Regions from separate parts of the Homo sapiens genome. Here region 1 is linked to region 2. The links come from fine-mapping of genetic effects on gene expression. Tissue or cell type: lung. Region 2 holds a variant in brackets; the other region holds the start of a gene. All regions are shown on one strand. Distances are from middle to middle.

Region 1 (8,000 bases), 47 kb before region 2:
CTAGTAAGACAGACTGAATACAGAAAACAGTCATACAAATATATAAAGTGTGGTAAGTTGGTTAGAATGAATCTCTCTCTCTTTTTTTAAGTAGGAAGCTCCCAAAGAACATTGTTATTTTTCACTTACTAGGAGCTCATCTGTTATAGAAAAGAACAGTTGTAAGTCATACAGAAACAAAAGCACAGTCATTCAAGTATCCACATTACAACTGTGGGGGATTAGCCCCTGAATTTATTGTTAACATTTTGAGGATCCAGTGCATTTTTTGTGCTTAGTAAGCAGTATCACACCCTAAAAGTGGGACAGTGTTTATTAATCTGGTTATTAGATGGTTTTTCCTATCAGCAACTAAATTGATCAAAAACCATTCTATCCTCAGAGGATAATGTAGAAAAAGTCAGGGTGGTTACTGGGGAGAAAGGCAGGAGAATTAGAGATCCTCACCAACAGTGCCTATTCTGCAAAGCCTATGATTTAGGGGGGTGGCCCAGCCCCAGGAAGGGCTCTCAGACTTAGGGCATCCTTTAGTTTCCCTATTAGTAACATTTCTAGGGGGAAAATGAGATTGTTTAGTACTGAAGCTAATGTTTAGCAAGTACTACTATTATGTGTTAAGAGTTTTGTATTACATAAATCCTGGCTGGGGACCTCTGCCCCTATCTTGTCTAGCACGAGGGAGGAGGCCTGATGTTTTCCCACCATCCTATTTGTAGAATTCTTAGATATCTGCATGTGAACTATAGGATTATTAGAAGGCACCAAGACCTGTGCTACCTTTCCCCGTGAGCTGCTTACTGTAGGGCTGAGTAGGGGGGAAGTGTCGGCAAGAAAAGGGTGTTTTTTTTTGAGTGCATCTCAAAGTTAATAGAACTCTGGAAACACTTAAGAATTGTGCAGCTGGTGCCACTCTCTGGAGAGCTGTGTGGGGCATAGCTGGGGTTCACCAACATTCTGGAATGGGCATGCTGATGATGCAGATCACCACTCTCACACCTCAACCCCTGGGAGGGTGAGGGAAAGAAGTTAATTTAAAAAATGGAATGCCTCGTCTAGTTGCTTATGGGTAAAGGAGAAGAATCAGGCTCCCCCTTCAAAATCCTTGTCCTCCCTTTCCAAACACATCGGAAATATAGATAGCATAAACTATAGTTAGTGGGGATGGATTGGGAAGTAGACAGCAGGCCAAACAGAGGAAATGTCCCCACCCCTTATCGGTAGAAGGGGCTGTGCCCACAGTGTTCTATCTATGCTGGGCTGAACTGGGGAGATCACCCCCAGAGCACTTTTTAGCACCTCCCAGTGCTACTTTTGGGATGGTTAAAAGTATGATTGTCCCCAAACCCTAATTGCCATGCAGCCAGTACAGAACTGCTGATTGTGACTGAGCATTCTCAGGTTTAAGAGATGATAGGAAGAGTAGATGACTGGATTCAGGAACACTTCTGTTTGTTTGTTTTGAGAGAGTCTCTCATGGTTGCCTAGGCTGCAGTGCAGTGGCACGATCTTGGCTCACTTCAGTCTCCACCTCCTGATTTCAAGCAATTCTCCTGCCTCAGCCTCCCAAGTAGCTGGGACTACAGGTGCATGCCACTGCACTCAGCTAATTTTTGTATTTTTGTAGTGATCGGGTTTCACCATGTTAGCTAGGCTGGTCTCGAACTCCTGACTTCAAGTGATCCACACACCTAGGCCTCCCAAAGTGCTGGGATTATAGGTGTGAGCCCCCACACCCAGCCCAGGAACATTTCTGCTTTTGCTCTAGGGGCATTTTCAACTTTCTCCTGGGTTCGGCATGGGCCTCTGACTTTAGCAGTTTTTGGCAGCTCCTGGCCTTGTTCCTGCCCACCCCTCCACTCAGATGCCAAAGATTTCCTAAGTGATCCTATTCGTAGGCAGCTCTGAGCCTTTCTCCAGAAAGCCTGCTTTTAGGCAATAGGAAAGGGGGAAAAAAGTGAATTCTTACCAGGAAAAAATGAATCACAATCATCCATCCCCATCCTCCATCCAGGGTTTTAGTGTAAGGTTGGACCTTCCCCTCCCTCTTCAGCATGATGCCTCTTCTATTTTAAATGCAGAAGATCCCTGTGATAAATCCAAGACAGTTGATTCAGTGGACCAGAAACTAATCTAAACTTTTAAACTTTTTATCTGAAAGGGAACGTTCATACATTGTTGGTGGGAATGCAAATTAGTTCAGCCACTGTGCAACGCAGTTTGGAGATTTCTGAAAGAACCAAAAATTGAACTACCATTTGACCCAGTAATCCCATTCCTGGGTATATACCCAAAGGAAGATAAATTGTTCTACCAAAAAGCCACATGCACTTTTATGTTCACTGCAGCATTATTCACAATAGCAAAGACATGGAATCAACCTACGTGCTCATCAACAGTGGGTTGGATAAAGAAAATGTGATACATAGACACCATGGAATACTACACAGCCACCATAAAAAAGAACAAAATCATATCCTTTCCAGCAATATGGATGCAGCTGGACCATTATCTTGAGCAAATTGATGCAGAAACAACCAAATACTGCATGTTCTCACTTATAAGTGGGAGCTAAAAATTGGGTACATATGGACATAAAGAGGGGAACCACAGACACTGGGGACTACAAGATAGGGAGGGAGGAGGGTTGAAAAACTCCCTATTGGATGCTGTGCTCACTATCTGGGTGAGGGGTTCAATTATACTCCAAATCTCAGCATCAGACAATATGCCTTTGTAACAAACCTACACATGTACCCCCTGAATCTAAAATAAAAGTTGAAATGTAATACAAAACAGAAAAAAAACCTCTTTCCCTATGATATAAAACCACTTGTAATTTTTTTTTAACCCCTCAGTTACAGATGAAGTCTGCCTGATGCAACTAAGGACTTAGTTACCTGGAAAGCCTGATCTCAGTGACTGTGGGGTGGCCACTCCTAGAACTGTACTCAGTGTCCCTCCCCCCAGGTCTGCAAGCCAGTTTCTTGGAGAAGCTGTGCGTCACCCTGCTGGTCCTCCGGGTGAACTCTTAAGAGAAATAGAAAGGGAAGGCGAGCCTTGAGTTTAGGAATTCTCCTTAGAAAACACTTGCTAAATGTAAATATTTTTGGAGCTAAACAGACATGACAACGAAATGCGATACCCGCTTATTGAATATATCCTAGATCAGAAAAAAAAGTTGTAAAAGACAGTTTGTGGGGACAGTTGGGGAAATTTGAATATGGACTGTATAATACAGAATACTGTACCAAGGTTAACCTCTTGGAACCTCTTCCACAAGAGAATATTCTTAGGAGATACATGCTAAAGTATTCAGGAGTAACATGACACTATGCTACCTTCTCCCAATCGGTTCCGTAAAATAAACAAGTGTATATAAAGAATGATAGCAAAAAGAAAATGTAAATGTTCTGAGGAAGGGGGAACAGTACTCATTATTTCCCCTGTCGGGTCGAAGGCTGACTGTTTCTAACTGGAAAGGAAAGTCAGCTGGCAGGGTATGCGGAATGGCCATCTGGTGAGCAGGCTGGGTGGGGAGAGATGCCAGTCGTTGTTAGAAAACCAACCCAGCACACAGTCCCATTCCCATCTTACCTTTGATGTGGTGTTCAGCAAAGAAATCCTCCACAGATGGGGCAATTAAGGAAGAAAAATAAATTACACCGTTTTCTGGAATGTTACTCTTTTTCTAAGGCATTTCATTTTGCTGCATTGTGAAAACAAGTGAGCATTGTAAGAGCCAAGGAGGGCTCAGACGATTTAGGCCCTCCTGCTAGTGGACTTTACTTCCTGAGGGGAGGAGGAAAGACTGTGATTTGATGTCATCTCAGGCCCTCCCTCCACCCACAGTCACTCAGAAGGTAGAATTTTTTGCCGCAGGCTCAAAAGCAAGCATGAAGTAAACTAAGTGGAAAGTCCTTTTGGCGACTATGCTCAGGGCAGGGGGATGGGGCTCCAGAGCTCTCATACACTTGTCTTCAAATTTCCTCAGGGAACTTCTCACAACATGCTTATTTTACAGGAGAATATAAAACTCCTGGATGGGTGGTGAGAGAGGCATTTCCTGGGCCACAAACAGAAATCTTCAGTAAGCTCAACCCATTCGTGTGGCCTTTTGTATATTGACTAAAGATTCTGGTTACTAATTTGGGGTTTCAGACCCCATTTTAATTGCATTTTTGAGATCTGATTACCTCAACCACCTCCTGCAAAAGACGTATGCTCGTAGTAATTTTAATGAGATTTTTTTTATTATATTTTGGAAATGGTTAAGGCTGAGACCCCTAGAAAATTACTGGGATAATTCAACTTTCTCTTCCCATTTCCTCCCTCTACCCTCCACATAAAACAAAACAAAACAAACAAGTCAAATGGGAAATTGTCTTTCGTCTCCCACACCAATATTCCAGATTTTAAACCAGAGTATATTTTAGACGAAAGGATGTGTTTTTAGTTTTATCTGGAAAATCTGCACATATTTATGCATGTTCCTTTTTAAGAAGCAAGAGGCTTCTCAGATTCTTAAAATCAAACTCTATAATACTTTTTGATTAAAGTGCTTGCAGAAGGACAGCTTAGTGGTTTGGGAGGGTGCCCTGTAAGTGTAAGCATGGAAGGATTATGCAGTTACATGATGCTGGTGGCAAGGATCAAATAAACATTCAACAGAAGGAGAAAACCCAAAGAGAGAAGGCAAATAAATGCTTTTCAGAGAGCTGTTTGTAATTATGAATACACTCTAGACAACTTTTTTTTTTTTGAGACAGAGTCTCACTCTGTCGCCCAGGCTGGAGTGCAGTGGTGCAATTTCGGTTCACTGCAACCTCTGCCTCCCGTGTTCAAGTGATTCTCCTGCCTCAGTCTCCCAAGTACCTGGTACTACAGGCGCATACCACCACGCCCAGCTAATTTTTTGTATTTTAGTAGAAACGGGGTTTCACCGTGTTGCCCGGGCTGGTCTCAAACTCCTGAGCTCAGGCAATCCGCCTGCCTTAGCCTGCCAAAGTGCTGGGATTACAGACGTAAGCCACCGTGGCCAGCCTGAAAACATTTTTTAGTAAACAAGACTGATTTATTTATTTTTTTGGTGGCACGCTTGTTGCTCTTTTAAAGCAGGGCTATCTATGATTTCTTTTTTTCTTGAGACAGGGCCTGCTCTATTGCCCAGGCTGGAGTCAGTGGCATAATCATGGTTTACTGCAGCCTTGACCTCCCCAGCTCAAGCAATCCTCCTACCTCAGCCTCCTGAGTAGCTGGGACTACAGGCATGCACCACCATGCTCAGCTAATTAATTTTTTTTTTTTTTAAGAGATGGGGGTTTCACTCTGTTGCCCAGGCTGTTTGCAATGTCCTGGGCTCAAGCGATCCTCCCATCCTGACCTCCCAAAGTATTAGGATTACAGGCATAAACCACTGTAAGGAGCCAGCTATCCATAATTCTAATCACAGGATGAAATGATGCTAGGCTATATATATATTTTTCTTACACACACACACACAGAGGAATATATATATACACACATATACATATAGGAACATATACAACTGGGAAGTTAGATTTCAGGAGGGTTCCTACCATTCCTTAAATGATAATAGTGAATCATTGTGCCTAACCTATGTAAACAATACATTATATATGTGTGTATATATTCCTATTCATCTTTGTCTTATAATAGGCTTTATATTGATAGAGAACTCTGATGCTAATGCCTGGGGTCAGATTTGAAATGCGGCAGAACAGCAAGTCATTCATAGAGGCCAAGAGGACAGCAAAGTAATCAGAGATGAACTTCAAACATATGTTTCATAGAGGCACATGAACAGAAATGCAGGCTTGGTGATAATCTCAATTTTGTCAGTTTTTAAGCCCGTAGACTCTGGGCAATTTACTCTCTTTGAGTCTGTTTCTAAAACTCTAAAGCGTAGCTAATATTTTGCAAGGTTGTTGTGAGGATTAACAATATATAATGTAAGATGACTGCACATTGGACCTACTATTGGTACTTGGTTCATGAAAAATAATTTTTGTTAGTCAAATGAGGCCTAATAGCAAGAAGAAAGAATTCTTAAGCCACCTTTGGGATATTAGTTAACATTTTGGCATCTGTACCCAATTGTCTTAATAAAGCTTGTAGGGTCTTTAACGAAACATAAACAATTCCCTCAACTTCTAACCTTTTAACTCTTGGCCCTAAAGCTATTCAGCAAGAATGCAGCATGATTTGGCAATCACCACTATTACCCCCATCCCAGTGTCAAACATAGCCAGCCCAGGAATAATTTTTAACACTTATGGATTTAGACTTTAATAAGCTTTACCAACTAGAATTAAGATACTTTATTTTTAGTTGACTCTCTCCTTGCCCTCATTCAATCCTTGTTCAGAAAAGAGTTAACATCGCTGGCCTGAGATTCCTATTCTTTGAAAGGCCTGTTTACATGGTTGGCCTCTGGCTGGCAACTGGGAACTTAGATTTCAGGAGGGTTCCTACCATTCCTTAAATGATAATAGTGAATCATTGTGCTTAAACTATGTAAACAATACAATTTTTATGCTGAACATTTGCTTTTTTCGGGAGCTTGGAATTTTGATATGTGCTAGGCAGAGAGGGTACTTTGGTGACCAGCCCCCTTGGGCACTGAGTCTCTACTAAGCTTTCTGGATTGGCAACATTTCACACATGTTGTTACAACTCATTGCTGGAGGAATTAACTGCATCCTGTGTATCTTCACTGATAGAAGAATTCTTGCAAGCTTCTGCCTGGTTTCTTCTGGACTTTGCCCCATCCTCCTTTTGCCTTTGTTGAGTCAGCTTTGTATCCTTTCACTTTAATAAACCATGTAAGTACAACAACTAAATGCTCAGTCCTGTGAGTCATCCTAGTGAATTATCAAACCTGAGGGGTTGAATGAGTCTGGGTTCTCGAGAAAGAATAGAATATTCTCCAGAGCAAGAACCAGTGATGGGGGAGGAGATATTAAGGTTGATTTACTATGAGAATTGACTCACATGATTATGGAGACTGAAAAGCCTGCACTCTGGTCAGCAAGCGGGACACTCAAGAGAGTTGATGGTGTAGTTCCAGTCTGAGTCCAGAAGCCTGAAAACCAGAAGTGCTGATGGTGTAAGTTTTAGTCTGAGAGGGCCTGAGAACCAGGAGAGCCATTTGTGTAAGTTCCATTCTGAGTTTGAGTCCAAAGTCAGGAGAAGACTGATGTCCCGACTCCAAGACAGTCAGGCAGTGAGAAATTCTTTCTTAGCCTTTTATTCTATTCAGGCCTTTAATGGATTGCATGAGTTCCGCTCACATTGGGGAGGGCAGTCTTCTTCAGTCTACTGATTCAAATGCTGATCTCATCCAGAAACACCTTCACGGTTACACCCCAAAATAATGTCTAGCCAAATACCTGAGCATCCCATAGCCCAGCCAAGCTGACACATAAAATTAACTATTATAGAAGTGTCCTGGGACTCCCTCATACAAGCATACTTCAGCTTTGGCTCTGTACAGACTAGAAAATGAGCCTTTTCCAGCCTCAAGCTCTTTCCAGCACATCTTATGTTTCATTGATAAATTGGATACATTATATCCTACCTCAAAGGGTGCTGTGAAGAATAAATGAGAATGTATGTTCATTTATTTCATTCAATAAAAACAATTGCTTCCTATGTGCCAGACGCTGTGCCAGAGGGGGATATGTGGTAGACACAGGGTGGCATGAGATGTGGCCCAAGGGGTTAGCAGGGCTTGAATTATGCAGGGGTTGGGAGGTCATGGTTAGAACTTATTTTTTTTTTTGGATACAGGGTCTCGCTCAGTCACAGCCCAGGCTGGAGTGCAATGGCACAATCTCATCTCACTGCAACCTCCGCCTCCTGGGTTCAGGTGATTCTTGTGCCTCATCCTCCTGAGTAGCTGGGATCATGTGCACCACCACACCCAGCTAATTTTTTTGGATTTTTAGTAGAAATGGGATTTCACCATATTGGCCAGGCTG
Region 2 (8,259 bases):
AAGGAGTGGATATAATGCCTGCCTGCCTGCCTTCTTACTATCTGCACAAGCATTGGCCTCTGAGTGAAACCCAGAGTCTCTGCTTTGGATGCTGGGGACCTGGGCATCTTTGTCCCCTTGTGTCTCCTCCTGGCGCTGGCCAGGGGCCTACAAAGTGCACTTGGCACCAACTAGTCCAAGTCCTTGGTGAACTTGTCATTTTCCTTAGTTCTCTCCATCCTCCTGGCCCTTTTAGGGACCTGTCACAGTGCCTGCTGAGAGTGATTGCCCAACAGAAGCTCCTCCTGCACTCTCAGCCCACAGTGGGGGCAGGGGCAGGCCGAAAGGCTGGAGAGTGAGAGAAAGCCACCTGCTGGGAGGTTCTGGCTTTGTTGCTGCCACTGACTCAGCCCCAGGCCTTTCCCCGTGTGACCAGCCCATCAGACTCACACCCCTGAGCTAACCTGCACCCAGGCCTTCCTGGCAGTACAGACTCACGCTCAGGACAGTGTTTCATGCCTGTCTTTCTAAGGAGTTTCTGTAGGATTTCAACATGTGATCTCCCTGCCCTGCTGCCCTCAGAGCTACTCATGTGACTCTGTTTCCTTCTTTTCAGTCTTTTAAAATTGTGGTGAAATGCGAATAACTTAGAATTTACTATTTTAACCATTTTTGAGTGTACGATTCAGTGGCATTAAGTATTTTCCTTTCTTTTCGCTCCTGGCAGCCTTATCAATAAAGCGGTGGTCCTGTCTGTTTCCCCCCAGGCCACAGGGTGGGTGTCGGGGGTCAACTTGGATGCCCAATATCTCCCATTTGGATGAAAAGTTTCTATTCTGACAACCACCCATCTGAAAAATGTAAACTTCCATGGAATCTGCCTTCCTTCAGCAGGCAGCTAATGGGAGGCTTTTTAAATTAAGAAATTAGAGTGAGTTGGCTGGTCACAGTGGCTCACAATTGTAATTCCAGCACTTCGGGAGGTCGAGGCAGGCAGATCACTTGAGGTCAGGAGTTCGAGACGAGCCTGGCCAACGTGGTGAAAACCCGTCTTTCCTAAAAATACAAAAATTAGCTGGGTGTGGGGGCATGCACCTGTAATCCCAGCTACTCAGGAGGCTGAGGTTTGAGAATCGCTTGAACCCGAGAGGTGGAGGTGCCACTGCACTCCAGCCTGGGCAACAGAGCAAGACTCCATCTAAAAAAAAGAAAGAAAAAAAAATAGAGTGAGTTGGTCCTGATTTCACTTACTCCTACTTTTACCAGCCTATGTGAGGAAGGAAAGAGCACTGGATCCAGAGCTTAGAACACCTTAAAGGCTGCTGGCTTCTGTGGGGCTGGCACCACTGGGGAGAGGGACTCCAGTCAGCTGGTGAAGGGCTTGGGTCCCTGGCTGCTTGGAATGGGAACTTGTCTGATCTTTCCCCAGAAGCTTGCATTTGTTTGGGATAGAGCCAATGTGCTGTCTTCGGGCAGGAGCCTGCCTCTTGATGTACTGTGTTTGTATCAGAATGCTTCTGGGTACAAGAGATAGAGAGCCTGGCTTAAATTCAATTAACATGTGGTCAAATCAAGGATCCAGGTTCTTTCATCTTTCTGCTCTGTCATCCTCAGCATTGGCTTTTTTCCTAAGACTGGTTACTCTGATGGTCCCGACTCTCCAACTACCGATGGTGGAAGGAGAAGGGCTCCATGATTGCTTGATTCACCCAGCTGTAGAAAGAAAGAAACCACTCTCCCAAGCATAGACTTTATGGCCTTCCCTTCTGACTAATCAGGCCAGCGTAGTTCACCTGTACACCCCTGGATCATCCGCAGTTACAGGTGAACAATGTGGTGGGTTGACTGTTCAAGATGCAGTGCTAGTGCTGGGAATATGGTCAGCTTCCCCTGAAGCACAGCTTCTAAGTACCCTGGGGAATTGCATTACCTGTAGGAGAGGTACACACTGAGCAAAACTTGGTTTCTGTTAGAGGAAAAGACTTGGGGAGTGGTCCCCTACAGCAATGTTTTTCAAACTGTGGATTGAGATCCATTAGTGGGTCATGAAATCAGTTTAGATCACAGCTTATGGGGCAAATTCAGCCTTTATTTATTTGTATGAATAAAGTTTCATTGGAACACCGCTACCCCCACTCGTTTCCTATTGTCAATGGCAGCTTTCCCACTACAATGGCAGAGTTAATTTAATTACTTGGGACAGAGATCATATAGTCATCAAAGCCTAAAATATTTACTCTCAGGCCTTTTGCAGAAAATATTTGCTGATCCCTGGTTTAGCGAGTTGCAACCAGTACTAAAAGATGAAACAGATTAGACTAGAATAGAAAATATATCAGAGTGCATTGCCTGTGATAGGGATAAGTATTATTTCATAAACCCTTGATTTTAGTTTTATATAAACATAAATTCGTGCTTGTGGGTGCTGGGCTCTAGTTTATTTCTTATGGTGGGTCATAGTCAAATAGTTAGAAAAATTGCACTAGAGCACCACTCATTTTTTGCCGTGGAAATAGCTACTTAAGAAGGCCTATTTGTAATAGTGCTGCCCTTTGGGTTACATGTGATCTCTGTACCTAAAAGGTCAGGTGCTGGGGAAGATGCCTTGAATTAACAAAGGGCCATGAAACAATTTTGGGGGGTGACCTGGGAGCACTGAGTGAGCAACAGTATAGGATGAGCAGGGATCTGGCCAGGAGGAAGCTGGACCAGCCGCGCTCAGACTTGAAGAGACTGTGCTGGAAGATCTAAGCCTTTGTTGCTTCTAACATTCTGTGATTTTCAGAGGGGCGTTCACCCCATTCTGTGGGTGGAAAATCAAGGCCAGAGGAGACCACACACAGAAAACTCAGGGGCAGGACTAGTGGCTTTGGCCCTTTGGTGGCTTTCTGCCTGCCGTCCCCTGACTGAGTTTTCTTTGGCCCACGCTCCAACTATGCCTGGAGAGAAGCTAGACCAGATGGAGACTAGCTGGGAGCATTGACTCCTGGGTTCTCCTCTCCTGAGAACTCTGATCTTGCCAGCACAAAGGGGAAGACATCTTCTCTGACTCCTTCAGGGAAGGGAGTCCCGCCGACCACAGCTTTCCACGTTTCTGGGCCTCTGGCTTTTAGCAATTGCCCTCCTTTCCCGCCAACTCTGGCATCTTCCTGCCTGTGTGGGAGTCACTAGCGTGCAAGGAGGCTGAAGGGCCTTGATTGTCTGTGAGAGCCTCTGCCATTAGTAAGGCAGTCGTGGAATGTTTATGGCCTCTGCCACTTCAAAGACATTGCTGGGCTCCCATCTAGGGGATGGCTTTGACATTTATAGGAGGGTCAGCGAGCTAATAAACCAGAGAGGTTTCTAGTGCCTGAGGGATCCTCTTACAAGAAGAAATTTATTTCACATAGGAATGTCCAGAAATTTATTGGAAATATCCAGCCAAGTGCGCATACTAACTAACCCCATGCTTCATTTTGATGAGACCTTATGTCCTTGGACAGGAGGCCCTGTAAGGCAGCTTCAGACAACGGGCTCCACCTCAGCAGGAGCAGCTGGGAGCCTGGGCTCTTCTTTCTGAAACTGCCTTCAGAGTTGGATGGAAGAAGGGCAATTGCCAAAAACCTGGCTGAATCTGTGCTCAGGTGGAATTTTCTATCTCAGCTGCTGCTGAAATCAAAGATGAGCTCAGGCACTGGTCTTCCAAGATGTCAAAGCACAAGTCCTTTCAGAAAGTGAACTCACGTGGACCCCAACTATGTGAAATTGCTGCATTTGGAGCTGCTCTGTCCCAGTGGTGTGGGCAGCTTTCTGCTGGACTCTTCTAGCCACAGGGAGGATACCCTTCCTCCCAGGATAGCCCCCAAGGCACTGTGTCTGAAAGCCCCTTATTTTGAAGAGAAGAAAAATAAAGTCCTAAAATGTTGAGGTGACATCTTAGCTTGGGTTCCCCACAAAACAGAGCCAGAGGCAAAGGCTTGGGTGCCAGTAGTTTATCTGAAGGTGATTCCAGAAAATAGAAGAAAGAGTGGGGGGAAAGAAGCAAGGAAAGAAGGAATGCTGAGAAATAATGTGTTCTCCAGATTGCAGGCTGGATTCTTCCATAGCCCCCAGAGAAGAGGTCTAAGGCCCTCTGAGTTGGAGCATTCACCCACTGGTTCCTACTCCCTCTGGTTGAGGGTTCCTCCAGTGGGGAGGGATTAACTTCCTGTACTTGCAGGCTGTGCTGATGAGTGGGTTGAGCTCCTGCAGTAGAGAGGCCGTGGGCATCACATGGGAAAAAACGGTTTTCCAGGTTGACCCTGTTAGCACAAGGTGAATGTCAGGCCTCTGAGCCCAAGCTAAGCCATCATATCCCCTGTGACCTGCACGTATACATCCAGATGGCCTGAAGTAACTGAAGAATCACAAAAGAAGTGAAAATGGCCCGATCCTGCCTTAACTTATGACATTCCACCACAAAAGAAGCGAAAATGGCCGGTCCCTGCCTTAACTGATGACATTACCTTGTGAAATTCCTTCTCCTGGCTCATCCTGGCTCAAAAGCTCCCCCACTGAGCACCTTATGGCCCCAGCCCCTGCCACCAGAGAACAACCCCCTTTGACT[A/G]TAATTTTCCACTATCCACCCAAATCTTATAAAACGGCCCCACCCCTATCTCCCTTCGCTGACTCTTTTCGGACTCAGCCCACCTGCACCCAGGTGAAATAAACAGCCTTGTTGCTCACACAAAGCCTGTTTGGTGGTCTCTTCACTGATGCGAGTGAAAGTGAATCTGAGCTCACATGGAATTTTCTATCTCAGCTGTTCCTGAAACCAAAGATGGGCCCAGGGGACATGATGTTGTGGGGCACCAGGGGAACCTGCTATCAGGAACCCTTGGGGTCCAGAAAGTCCATGAGCTGGGCCTAGGATGCCAGCGATCCACAGGCAAGAGTAACATATGAGATGTATACTTATGCATGTGGGTATACATGATCGCACCTGGGCATAGAAACACACACACACACACACACACACACACACACACACACACACTCATTCATTTGAATCTTAGCATTTGGAAGGATTGTGGAAATAAACGAAGACCAAATGAGACAAGCAAAAGCTACTTGGCCCAAGCTTGCTATAGCAAGGGAGACCGCCACCCTCACTTGCGTATTGATGAGACCTAAAGGCAGGCAGAGGAGTGGGAAAGGTTTACAGTGGGAAAAAGGGAAGGCTTCAGGTGTTTCCTGATTGGGGGCTGCTGGCCTGGGGAAGCTGTAGGCAGGCTCACTAGAAGCGGGGCATCCTATGTGATTGGTAGGGGGTGCATATTTAGCTTTCTCTGGTTTGTCCTGAGTTGGAAGTGGGGACAAAAATTAGCGGGGGCGGGTGCTGTTGGTTATTAATCAAGTCCTGGCCATTTGGGGCTGATTGTTTACAGCGGTTATTTTTTGGTTTTCTGGATTACTGTGAGAGATAGCAGCATGATTTGTTGCAAGTCTGACTTATGGTAGCCGGGCTTCCTGGATTGTTTATGGTAGATAAGGGGTTGGTTTCCTGGACTTGCTGCTGCAGATTGTAGGTGCAATCCCTGTTTTTAGATATGGTCTGGCTGTTGTCCATTTGTATACTCAGTCTCTTAGGATCTTAAAGGGTACTAAGGAGAAAAATCCCCTCCATATCCTCCCTGACAGAGGGTCAGCTGTAAGGCCTATTTCTGAACATATTTAGCAATGAGAAGCTCATTGCTTCCATAGCAGCCAATTCCCTTGTCTGCTGGGATATTCTTCCTTATACTGGGCTAAAATCTTCTTCCCTGTACCTTCCACACTTTGATCCTATTTTGCCTTTTGGGGCAACACAACTCTCTCATATGTGAGAGGCAGTGCGGCACAGCAGTCAGAAGTGTGAGCATCTAGAGTTAGATTTGGGGTCAGGTTTTAGCCCTGTGACTTACTATCTGTGTGACTTTGGGCCATCATGGAGCCTTCGTTTCCTCAGCTGGAGTAGTGGTGGGGTAGTGATGTCTACTCAGGACATCAGACAATGCACGTAGACTGCCCAGTAATGGATCACTGCAGTGGAAGGTTGCCATCATGGCTGCTTTTTCAGGCTAGGCATCTGCAATTCGTTCACTTCTTCTTCCTCATAAGCTTGGTTGCCATTTCAAGACCTACCCTAAAACAGCGCACCCACTCTCTGGCTCTGGAACTCGGCCTGCAGTGGACCAGAGAGAGAGTGCAGTCCTGGGACTGTGCCTTATAGGGTGATGTATGGTTTGGCTCTGTGTCCCCACCCAAATCTCATCTTGAATTGTAATAATTCCCACGTGTCAAGTGCGGGACCCAGTGGGAGGTAATTGAATCATGGGAGTGGTTTCCCCCATGCTGCTTTTGTGATAGTGAGTGAGTTCTCATGAGATCTGATGGTTTTATAAGTGTCTGGTATTTCCCCTGCTGGCACTCATTCTCTCTCCTGCCACCCTGTGAAGAAGTGATTTCTGCCATGATTGTAAGTTTCCTGAGACTTCCCCAGCCATGCGGAACTGTGAGTCAATTAAATCTCTTTTCTTTATAAATTACACATTCTTGGGTATTTCCTTATAGTAATGTGAGAATGGACTAATACATAGGGTTAGAGTGTTTGGAAGCTGACAGGTGACAGGGTGGTGGGAGGTGGAAATTGAGGGCTGCTGGGGAAGAAGATGATCAGAAGATTAGCAGGCTGGACTTTCTGGTGTGTGGGTGGGGGGACCTAAGGCTGGTAAGGCAGGTGGGATAGGACATTGTCCTGTTAAGTTTCCAACCTAACCCCCAAACTCAGCCTTGGGCTCCAAGTTTGGGAACGCAGGCTAAGAGAGAAGGGCCCCAAGCTTTCTTCTGGGCGGGGCCTTTTGCGAAAAGCTCCAGCAGGTCCAGACTGTTAAGGCTGCCTCTGGGCTCAGGGCCCCCATGCTGCCTTTCCCTCCTGTGCACCAGATTCCCCCAAATATGAACCTTCAGGGAGACCCCATCCCAAGGACAGAGCAGGGGGCTGAGACTGGAGAGCATTAACAAACCTGGTGTGGGGGCCGGTGGGAGAAGCCCCAGAGTAGGAGGGGAAGGTGGGATGGGATGGGCATCATGGCAGGATGGTAGAAGGAGACGGTGGAGCTTATTAATGTCTCTTGTGGCCAGGGGCAGTGGCTCACACCTGCAATTCCAGCACTTTGGGAGGCTGAGGTGGGTGGATCTCTTGAGGCCAGGAGTTCAAGACCAGCCTGGCCAACATGGAGAAACCCCGTCCTCTACCCAAAATACAAAAAATTAGCTGGGTGTGGTGGCACACTCCTGTAATCCCAGCTGCTTGGCAGGCTTAGGCACAAGAATCACTTGAACCTGGGAGGTGGGGGTTGCAGTGAGCCCAGATTGCGTCACTGCATTCCAGCCTTGGTGATAGAGCAAGACTCTGTCTAAAAAAGAAAAAGGCCTCTCGTGCCTTTTTTCCAGTCCTTCTTGACTGGTCAGCCAACTCGACAGCTCAGCTCCTAAGTGAGCCCCCATCCTGTGCCTAAGGCTGACCAGGCATGAGGAAGTGCAAACACTGCTTACCCTGAGATCCTGCTGCTGCACCTCCTTTCCTAGGCTCTGCCAAGTTATCATGGAATGTTCTTAAACAATAGTCCCAGCCCTGTGGCCTGAGAAGATGGTTCTGTTAGAACAACTCTCCTTTTCACCTTTCCAGCTAAATGATGAGGGCTCCAATGGGGCTGAAGAGCAATGTCCCATCATGAAAGATATCCCAGTCCACAGGCGTGTTAGCCCACCCTCTCTCCTTCGGTTCCCTTAAAAATCTGGGAGGTGAGGCAGGTCCTGAAGATAGAGACTGGAAGGAGTGAGGGAATCCAGCTGATCTCAGTGGCAGAGCTGGGACTCAAACCCAGGCTTCTTCATTCCAGGCCTCCTCCTCCTGGGCCATAGCTGGGTGGAGTTTGGGTTCTGCCAGTGTCTAGCTATGTGACTTAGGCACTTTCATGACTTCTGGGTTCAGGTTCCTTCTGGGTTCAGGAACTTATGGGTTCAGGTTCCTTCTCCGTGTGGTGAGGGGGTAGAAACAGACCAGACTGCCTTGGGATGAAACCTTGAGGGTGAAAATGCCAAGTCCTGCCCTAGCAGCGGGCAGGAGAGAGAGCTGTGGAGAGAAAGCCCTTTCCCCTCTGTGGCTGGCTTCTCCCTGGCCTCCTGGGTCAGCCTGAGCCATCTCCCCTCTGGGCAGTGAAGCGGTTTTTACCCTGCCTGTGGCTCTCAGTTTCTTTGTAGACTCCTTAGGCATTGTGA

The links. PIP is the estimated chance that this variant, and not a neighbour inherited with it, causes the effect.
Region 1: SLC16A4 starts here. The variant in region 2 is fine-mapped to the expression of SLC16A4 in lung (TOPMed, PIP 0.95).

What each region holds. Positions count from the first base shown.
Region 1 is chr1:110,387,271-110,395,270 of GRCh38, forward strand. SLC16A4 (solute carrier family 16 member 4) reads right to left here and starts at 3,756. Exons shown (of 9, transcript NM_004696.3): 1 at 3,595-3,756; 2 at 1,967-2,085. The coding sequence starts at 2,053.
Region 2 is chr1:110,433,651-110,441,909 of GRCh38, forward strand. No RefSeq gene overlaps it. Among named protein-coding and RNA genes, the nearest start is that of PROK1, 13 kb to the right of the region's middle. RefSeq lists a silencer at 254-443. The variant A/G (reference allele first, on the strand shown) is at 4,565.